2 linked regions of the Homo sapiens genome follow. The protein of the gene in region 1 interacts with the protein of each later gene in a pairwise test. Each region holds a gene or a part of one and is shown in the gene's direction. Other genes may lie near its edges.

Evidence for each region. Proteins that work in one complex are often made in the same cells at the same time.
Region 2: the proteins of SUGT1 (region 1) and NOD1 interact in binary tests that used the Homo sapiens proteins (3 or more experiments, as listed by UniProt).

Annotation. Positions count from the first base shown.
Region 1 is NC_000013.11:52,697,710-52,701,434, forward strand, and holds the end of SUGT1 (protein SGT1 homolog), read left to right. Parts: 3' UTR 1-3,200; downstream 3,201-3,725. UniProt on the Homo sapiens protein: May play a role in ubiquitination and subsequent proteasomal degradation of target proteins.
Region 2 is NC_000007.14:30,476,774-30,480,524, reverse strand, and holds the start of NOD1 (nucleotide-binding oligomerization domain-containing protein 1), read left to right. Parts: upstream 1-1,740; 5' UTR 1,741-1,919; intron 1,920-3,751. UniProt on the Homo sapiens protein: Pattern recognition receptor (PRR) that detects bacterial peptidoglycan fragments and other danger signals and thus participates in both innate and adaptive immune responses.

The DNA of each region.
Region 1 (3,725 bases):
GCCTTTACTTTAAGGTATGTAGTAGAATAATATAGGTATCTGAAAAAGAACTTGGTTCATGACATCCACTCATTCATTTATGCACTTAGCAAATATTCATTGATTGCCAAATACGCATCAGACACTGAGCTAGGTGCTAGGTACTAGGTAAACAAAATTCCCTGCCTTCATGGAGCTTAGCTTGTGGTGGTGGAAAGAAGCCCTCAGCCTGAATACTCAACTTATGTCTGCCGTTTATTCCTTAACACATTAAACTATAGGTAATAGCATATGTTAGTCTAATCTTTGTTTAGCAAAGCTATTTCTTGTTCTGGAATATAAGTACAGTTACAGCAGAATAAGTACCAAGGCAAGATTGGAGAATGACCGGTTGTGAACAGGGACTTAGGAATATGTGTAGCATAGGATTTTATTTTAGAGTTGTTAAAATCAGATCAACAGAGCATGTTTTTATGGGCCATCTGACAAGACTAGAGGTAGCTTTGGAACCTCTTATTCCCTGGAATGCAAACATGTATTTGCATTTCATCCACTGTCAGTATGAGGAGACAAAAACGAAGTCAGGATTTTGGAGCTGGAATGGATCTTAAATACTATGTAGTCCAAACGTTTGGTTTTACAGATGCACTTTTTCCAGAGTGCTGTCATCTCATATACTTTTTTCTTCATACAGGTTTTTAATGTAACTCACTCAGATCGTTGGTGATAGACTCTCTCTTAAAACTTATTTATCCTAATCTTTTTTTTTTTTTTTTTTTTAAGAGACAGGGTTTTGCTCTGCTGTCCAGGCACACAATAGCTCACTGTAACCTCCAACTCCTGGAGTCAAGTGATCCTCCTGCCTCAGCCTCTCAGGTAGCTGGGACTGCACTACTAGTGCACTAAGCTAATTTTTAAATTTTTTTTGTAGAGACAGGGTCTTGCTGTGTTGCCCGGGCTGCTCTCTTAACTCCTGGCCTCAAGTAATCCTCTTGCCTTGGCTTCCCAAAGTGCTGGGATTACAGGCGTGAGCCACCATGCTTAGCTGATTTGCCCTAATCCTCTGCTGACATTCTGATATCGGACAACTAAAATTATAACATTGGGCAGCTATTTTGTATGATATATAGGGTAGTGGTTCTTAAGCTTATTGGTGAGTAACCTTCACTTGGGAAGCTTATTTTTAAAAATGTAGACCTTCATTACTTTCCTCCTGAGATTTTGAATCAGTACCTTTGAGAGAGGGTCCAGTAAATCTTTGTTTTGAATGAACTGATGGTTTTGAAGCAGGTGACCTGGAGGACTGCATGTAGAACACAGTGATGTCAAGGAGTAAAGGAGAGAACAGAAGTGAGATTAGCACTAATCACCTCTAATGCCTTATTTCCAGTAAAGTTTAGAGAAGAGGAAAAGCTACTTGGCTTGCTCCTTTGAAGGTTTTGTTTCCCTCTTAACACAGAAATTAAAAGGTAGAGGAGAGATGCTGAATGATGCTTTTTTTCTTCTTAATCTTGGGGGGTCATTATGATTAAGTTATTGAATCCATATCACCGTATGACAGCACATGATGAAAGAAAATCAAATGTTTGTTTCAATCAAAGTGAAACAAAATGAGAATAACTATTTGGGCAAAACACTTTTATCACTGCTAAGATATTACTAGAACTGAGCAGAGAAATACTCAGAGAGAGCCATGGCATAGTACTAATTAATAATGGGGTACCATTTAGCAACTGGAATATTCTCCGATGATGCCTGTTTAATTACCCATAGGTGCTAAGTGAATGTTAAAAATTACGGTGCTGGTTGAGTAGGCCGAGTAGAATTTGTGTTAGGGCACATCCCATGGAGATCTTTTTTACTGCTTAATTTTTTGGAGTTACCTCAGTAACTTAACAGGCAGGAATATGGTTTTAATGGAAAGGAAACCATTTGCCTTTAACAGCATTAGTCCCGCTAAGAGAAAGTTTTTGCTTGTCTAGTTTATTACAGGTCTTTGACTTTGTCAGTATATGGCAAATTTAGTATAAAAGATGATTAATTATCAAGGCTGATGAAATATAGGCAGCTGAAAAGAAAATTCTTAGCAATTCATACCTTAGAAGGAACCCTGAAGGACAGGACGCCATAGAAATCCTGTTTTTTTAAAAAAGTAATTTCAAGTAAGTTTGCAAATGCAATGCTAGTAAAAAGTATATAGAGGTATGTCTTTCACACTATCTTGTTACTATTAGAATTTTTGTAGCCATGTGCAGAGGAGAGAAAAGGTGTTGGATTTTCTGCAGTTCTGATTCAGTTCTAAGAATTTGGTGTGAAAAGAATGTTTGCAAAGGAGCAGGCACAAAGGTGAGAACAGGAATACGAAACACAACATCTGTAAATGACTAAATTCAGAGGGAATTTAGTGGGGCATATCTCTTAAATGGTTTTGAATAATTTGGTGTTTTAACCAATGACTTAATTTAACTTAGTGGGTATACTGTTCCCAGTCCCATTACTGATTTTTATTCCTCTGTGATAACATACACCCAAATAAAGACTGCTATGTATTTGACTTTAAAACTATAAAGATGTAAAAAAGGTTCACTAAGCCAAACACCTTAGAAAATAGCCTCAGCTATTTGCTATGTTTATATTATACCTGCATAAAAGTATTTATGTATAGATGTACTTACCTTACACAGTAAGTACCTAAAATTTGTAAATTGAATACTTTTGAATGTAAGCAGTTGAAGTAAAACCTGTAGTGAGTTCTTCAGTCAGTCAACACTAAACCTGTTTTGTAAATTTGATGCTAGTATTATACTGGACTTTCTCAAAATGAAGTACACCTATATATGCATATAGTATATGAGCATGTGTATTTGTACAAAAGCCCTTCAAAAGGAGTTCAGCTTTTATAAACACCAAAACACTCTCTGCCTGTAAAATGTTTTTGCTGAAATTTGTATCATTAACTCTCAAATTTACATCTTCATGTTTGAGATACGCTTTTAGGACTGTCTATGCATGTAGACTTTGGTCAACTCTCTCCTCCTCCCTCAATAAATCAGTTAACTTAAAAAATATATTGTGACCATTTTTATAAAATACATGTTCATAAAACAGATCAACATATTTAGCTTATACAGAAATAAAATTAAGTCAATCCACTCACAAAGAATTTCTATTTTGTAAAAATGTAGCTTGTATTTCAGTATAATAAAATCTGATGTAAGAAACTGTTGAGTGGGTTAAGTGGTTATTCTTAGTATTATATCTACTTTTTTAGTGTCACAGTTATTTGAGGTGCTGGTGGAAGGGGAGGTGTAAAAACACACAAGTTTTTGCAGCCAGAAAATGAAAACATTTTCCATGTGCTGACTAAATGGCAGCTGTCACATATTTCCTTCCATTCCGAGTCAAACTAGGACCTTGAAATCTAACTTGAGATGTTCCATCAGGATTGGTTTGTACCACTACTGAGAATTAAATGAGTATCTAATGAAGTACCAATAATACACATAAGTCTATACACACATACTAACATTTCAGTCAAGATTCAGCACAGCAAACTGGGCTGTATTTGCAACTTTTAGACTGGCCTGGTTAAAAGTAATTTGAGAAATTAGTAGTACCAAGTTGTGAAGAAATTTGTAATTCTTCCCTGTTGCCCTCTCTTCCTTTATTGAATGCTCATCTGTCCACTTCTCTTTCAAAGTAGACCCTTATTTTCATCCTTGAATACAATTTAAGTCTCCTTTGTC
Region 2 (3,751 bases), on another chromosome or scaffold:
AAGAAGGGGGAATGGAGGGTGGAAGGTTGCCCATAGTGAAGGAGGCAAGCCCAGAGAAAAGAAGGTAGAGACCCGGAGAAGGGGGGTGGTGAGCAGCCCTGGGCTGCAATGTGGCTGAGCAGCCAAAGCAGGCGACCCACAATTGACTTGCCACCAAGGGAATGTGGGTGAATGACCAAGGCAGGCATCCCCACGGTGATCAGACACCAATGAAATGTACGTGAATAATCAGGCAGGTGTCCCTGCAGTGATTAAACACCAAGGGACGACTGTTTTCCTGAGTCCGTGACCGGAGCTGGAGTTTTGGGTCCATGGATAAAATATGTCTCCTTTGTCTCTACTAGAGAGGAGAAAGAACTGGAATTGGAAATAGAGGGAGATTTAAGGGTAGTGAGAGAGGCTGGAGAAGACAGTGAAAAGACCGCTTACCCGATTTGAAATTGGTGAGATGTTCCTTGGGCTGTTTGGTCTGAGGACCCGAGGTCATAGGTGGATCTCCTCACAGAGTGAGGGTGAGGACAGGGGACTGGTCTCCTGAAGGAGTCCTCCTGTCCCGGGTCTTCGGCACCAAATGTCACACGTGTCCGTGTGAAGAGACCACCAAAAGGCTTTGCGTGAGCAATAAAGCTGTTTATTTCACCTGGGTGCAGGTGGGCCGAGTACGAAAAAAAGAGTCAGCAAAGGGAGTTAGGGGTGTGGTAGCTTTATAGGATTTGTGTGGGTAGTGGAAAATTACAGTCAAAGGGGGTTGTTCTCTGGTGGGCAAGGCGGGGGCCGGGGGGGTGGAAGGTCTACAAAGTGCTCAGTGGGGGAGCTTCTGAGCCAGGAGAAGGAATTTCACAAGGTAATGTCATCAGTTAAGGCAGGAACCAGCCATTTTCACTACCTTTGTGATTCCTCAGTTGCTTCAGGCCATCTGGATGTATACATGCAGGCTTGGGCTCAGAGGCCTGACACAAGTTGGCACATTTGATCCTATCAACTTTAGTTTGCACTTTCACTTTTGATTTAAGAACATACTTTCTGTTTCTCAGAGGGCAGCCTCTGATGGGAATTTTAATACTCACAAGCATCAGTGGCTATATGATTGAATGTACTTCTTCAGTGTGAGTAAGTGACAACTTTCTGTAGCATGATATCCCTTATGGACACGATCCCCATTCAAAACGTTTTAAAACTATTTTATTGGGGACATTTATTAGCATGTTAAAACTCTTTTACAACCTATTAGAGCATATGCATAGAACATAAAATGTACACTGCCAAGAACAAATTTAAGGATAGGAAGAAAAGCTTACATTTTTTAAAAAGTATAAATTGAAATGTATGCAGTGTAATTTAAATTTGATTACGTTAACCTCCATTTCATCAGGACCACGTGTCGCGTTTTAACAAGAGTTTCCCTATCATGTCCAGGCTTTGGCTCTGGTTGCAGGCGCTGGGTAGGCACTTTTACGAGGAGGGACCTGGCACGATGGCACCACAAATTCCCAAGTGTGTCACCTCTGGGCGAACTTGGGCCTGTCCACTCGGCCCTGCGCGGTGGCCAGGGGCTCACCCTCTCGCACCGGGCGTCCCTCTGCGCGCAGCTTCTCTCGCCCCCCCGCGCCAGACCCGGGCGAATGGCAGCACCGTGGGACCCTGCCTTGACCGCCCCCGCCCTTCGGCGGCCTCTCCCAGCAGCCGGCAGGCTCTTGGGCGCGCCAACAGAGGGGCGCGGCTGCGGCTGTAGTCGCAGCCAGTTCCCGTTCCGGGCCCGCGAGGCAGCCGCCCCGGTCCTGCCCCTCCCTCGCGCTACTGCGGGAGCAGCGTCCTCCCGGGCCACGGCGCTTCCCGGCCCCGGCGTCCCCGGACCATGGCGCTCTCCGGGCTCTTCTCTAGCTCTCAGCGGCTGCGAAGTCTGTAAACCTGGTGGCCAAGTAAGTCCCAGCGACTGGGGATTCGCGCGGGGCAGGCCCTTTCTGAGGTCCTGGGCGCTGCGAGTGAGGAGGCGCAGGGAGGCGGGATTTGCGTGCGGGCGGAACGCAGCGCGGCTCTGGAGGAGCTCTGGGTGGAACCAAGCGGAGAAACCCGCGAGTTTGAAGCATGTAGCGAAAGTTGAGAGGGATGAACTTCACAGTCAGCGGAATCGTTTATCCCACTGTGGTCGAACGCAGGGGTTCTCAATCGTGCCAGCAGCTTAGAACCACCTGGGGAGCTTTTAAAATCCAGATATCCAGGCTGCACCCTAGATCAATTCCATCAGAATCTCACGGAGTCAGACCCAGGCCTCCGTATCTTTTAAAAGCTCCCCAAGTGATTCCAGTGTGCAGCCAGCGTTCGAGGGTTTGTGGCAAAGGCTGGAAGGGCAGACAGGGGCCTTCATGGAGTCCCGCCTGCAGACGGGACAGCAGCTCCCAGTGTCCTGCTTGGTCCTGGAGAGAGGGTGAGAACTTCCCTTGGGTTTCATGCTCCACAAAGTAAGGAAATGAGACAATGCTTGGCAAGGTCGCCTGAATATCACATTCAAAAACGCCTCCAATGTGTGCAGTTGTTTTGGCACATTGTGAAAAACATAGGAAATGACAGAGGTTGATGTCTCATTAGCTCTGCATTCTAGGAAACATTTCGGTTGTTGGTGTTTGAAATTAAGTCTGGGGAAGCTAAGCTAGTAAACCCATGGCCTTGATGACTTCTGGCCTTTCTGCTTTAAGGGTGAAGCCAGGGCCGGGCGCGGTGGCTCACGCCTGTAATCCCAGCACTTTGGGAGGCCAAGGCAGGCGGATCACCTGAGGTCGAGAGTTCGAGACCAGCCTGGCCCAACATGGTGAAACCGTCTCTACTAAAAAAAAAAAAAAAAAAAATTAACCGGGCGTGGTGGCGCATGCCTGTAATCCCAGCTACTCGGGAGGCTGAAGCAGGAGAATTGCTTGAACCCGGGAGGCAGAGGTTGCAGTGAGCCGAGATCGCCCTGTTGCGCTCCAGCCTGGGCAACAAGAGCAAAACTCCGTCAAAAACAAACAAACAAACAAAAAACAAAAAAACGGTGAAGCCAGAAGTCGTGCTTGCCAAAGGGTCGAGTTTGTTCTCCCTCAAAGCCCCTGTTGAAGATTGAACTATCACTTTCAGGGAAGAGTAAAAGAGTAACTCCACGATGCATCTTAGAGAGGAGTGGATTCCCTGTTCTCACCCAGGCTTAGATGCCAGGGGCCAGGTAGCTGAAATCCAGGCAAACCAGGCATTGACAAAGTACAGACTTCTACCGAATATGCCAGACAGATAAGCAAGCTGTGTTTAAAACAAACAGCAGAGTGGTAGAAGAGGGCTCTTTCAAATATTGTAAGAAGAGTAGGTTTTATTTTTGTGGAGTGGAGAAATAAGTTCACGCTTTGGAACCCATCAAATCTGGGTCAAAACTCGGATTCTGTCACTTCTATGCTGTGACTTTGGGCAAGTTCCTTGACCTCTCCAAGCCCCTGTTTTCCCACCTGTAAAATAAAGAGCAACCCTCTCCTGAGGCTAGCATAGTTCAGCGAGATGATGTGCATCACACACCTGGAAGGTGGTGGCGCTGGCAGGTGCTCTGGCAGAGGTAGTTATTAGACACTGGAGTGGCAGTTTGTGCCCGTTAATTGTTTACTTAGTACAGCCACTATGAGGGAGAATGTCTATAAAATGTTCCCTTCAACGCTCCATTCCTTCTCCTGCCCTGCTGCCCCGCTCAGGGCCTTAGCGGGCTTTAAGTCTGAAATCTTAGGCTGCAAATCCCCTC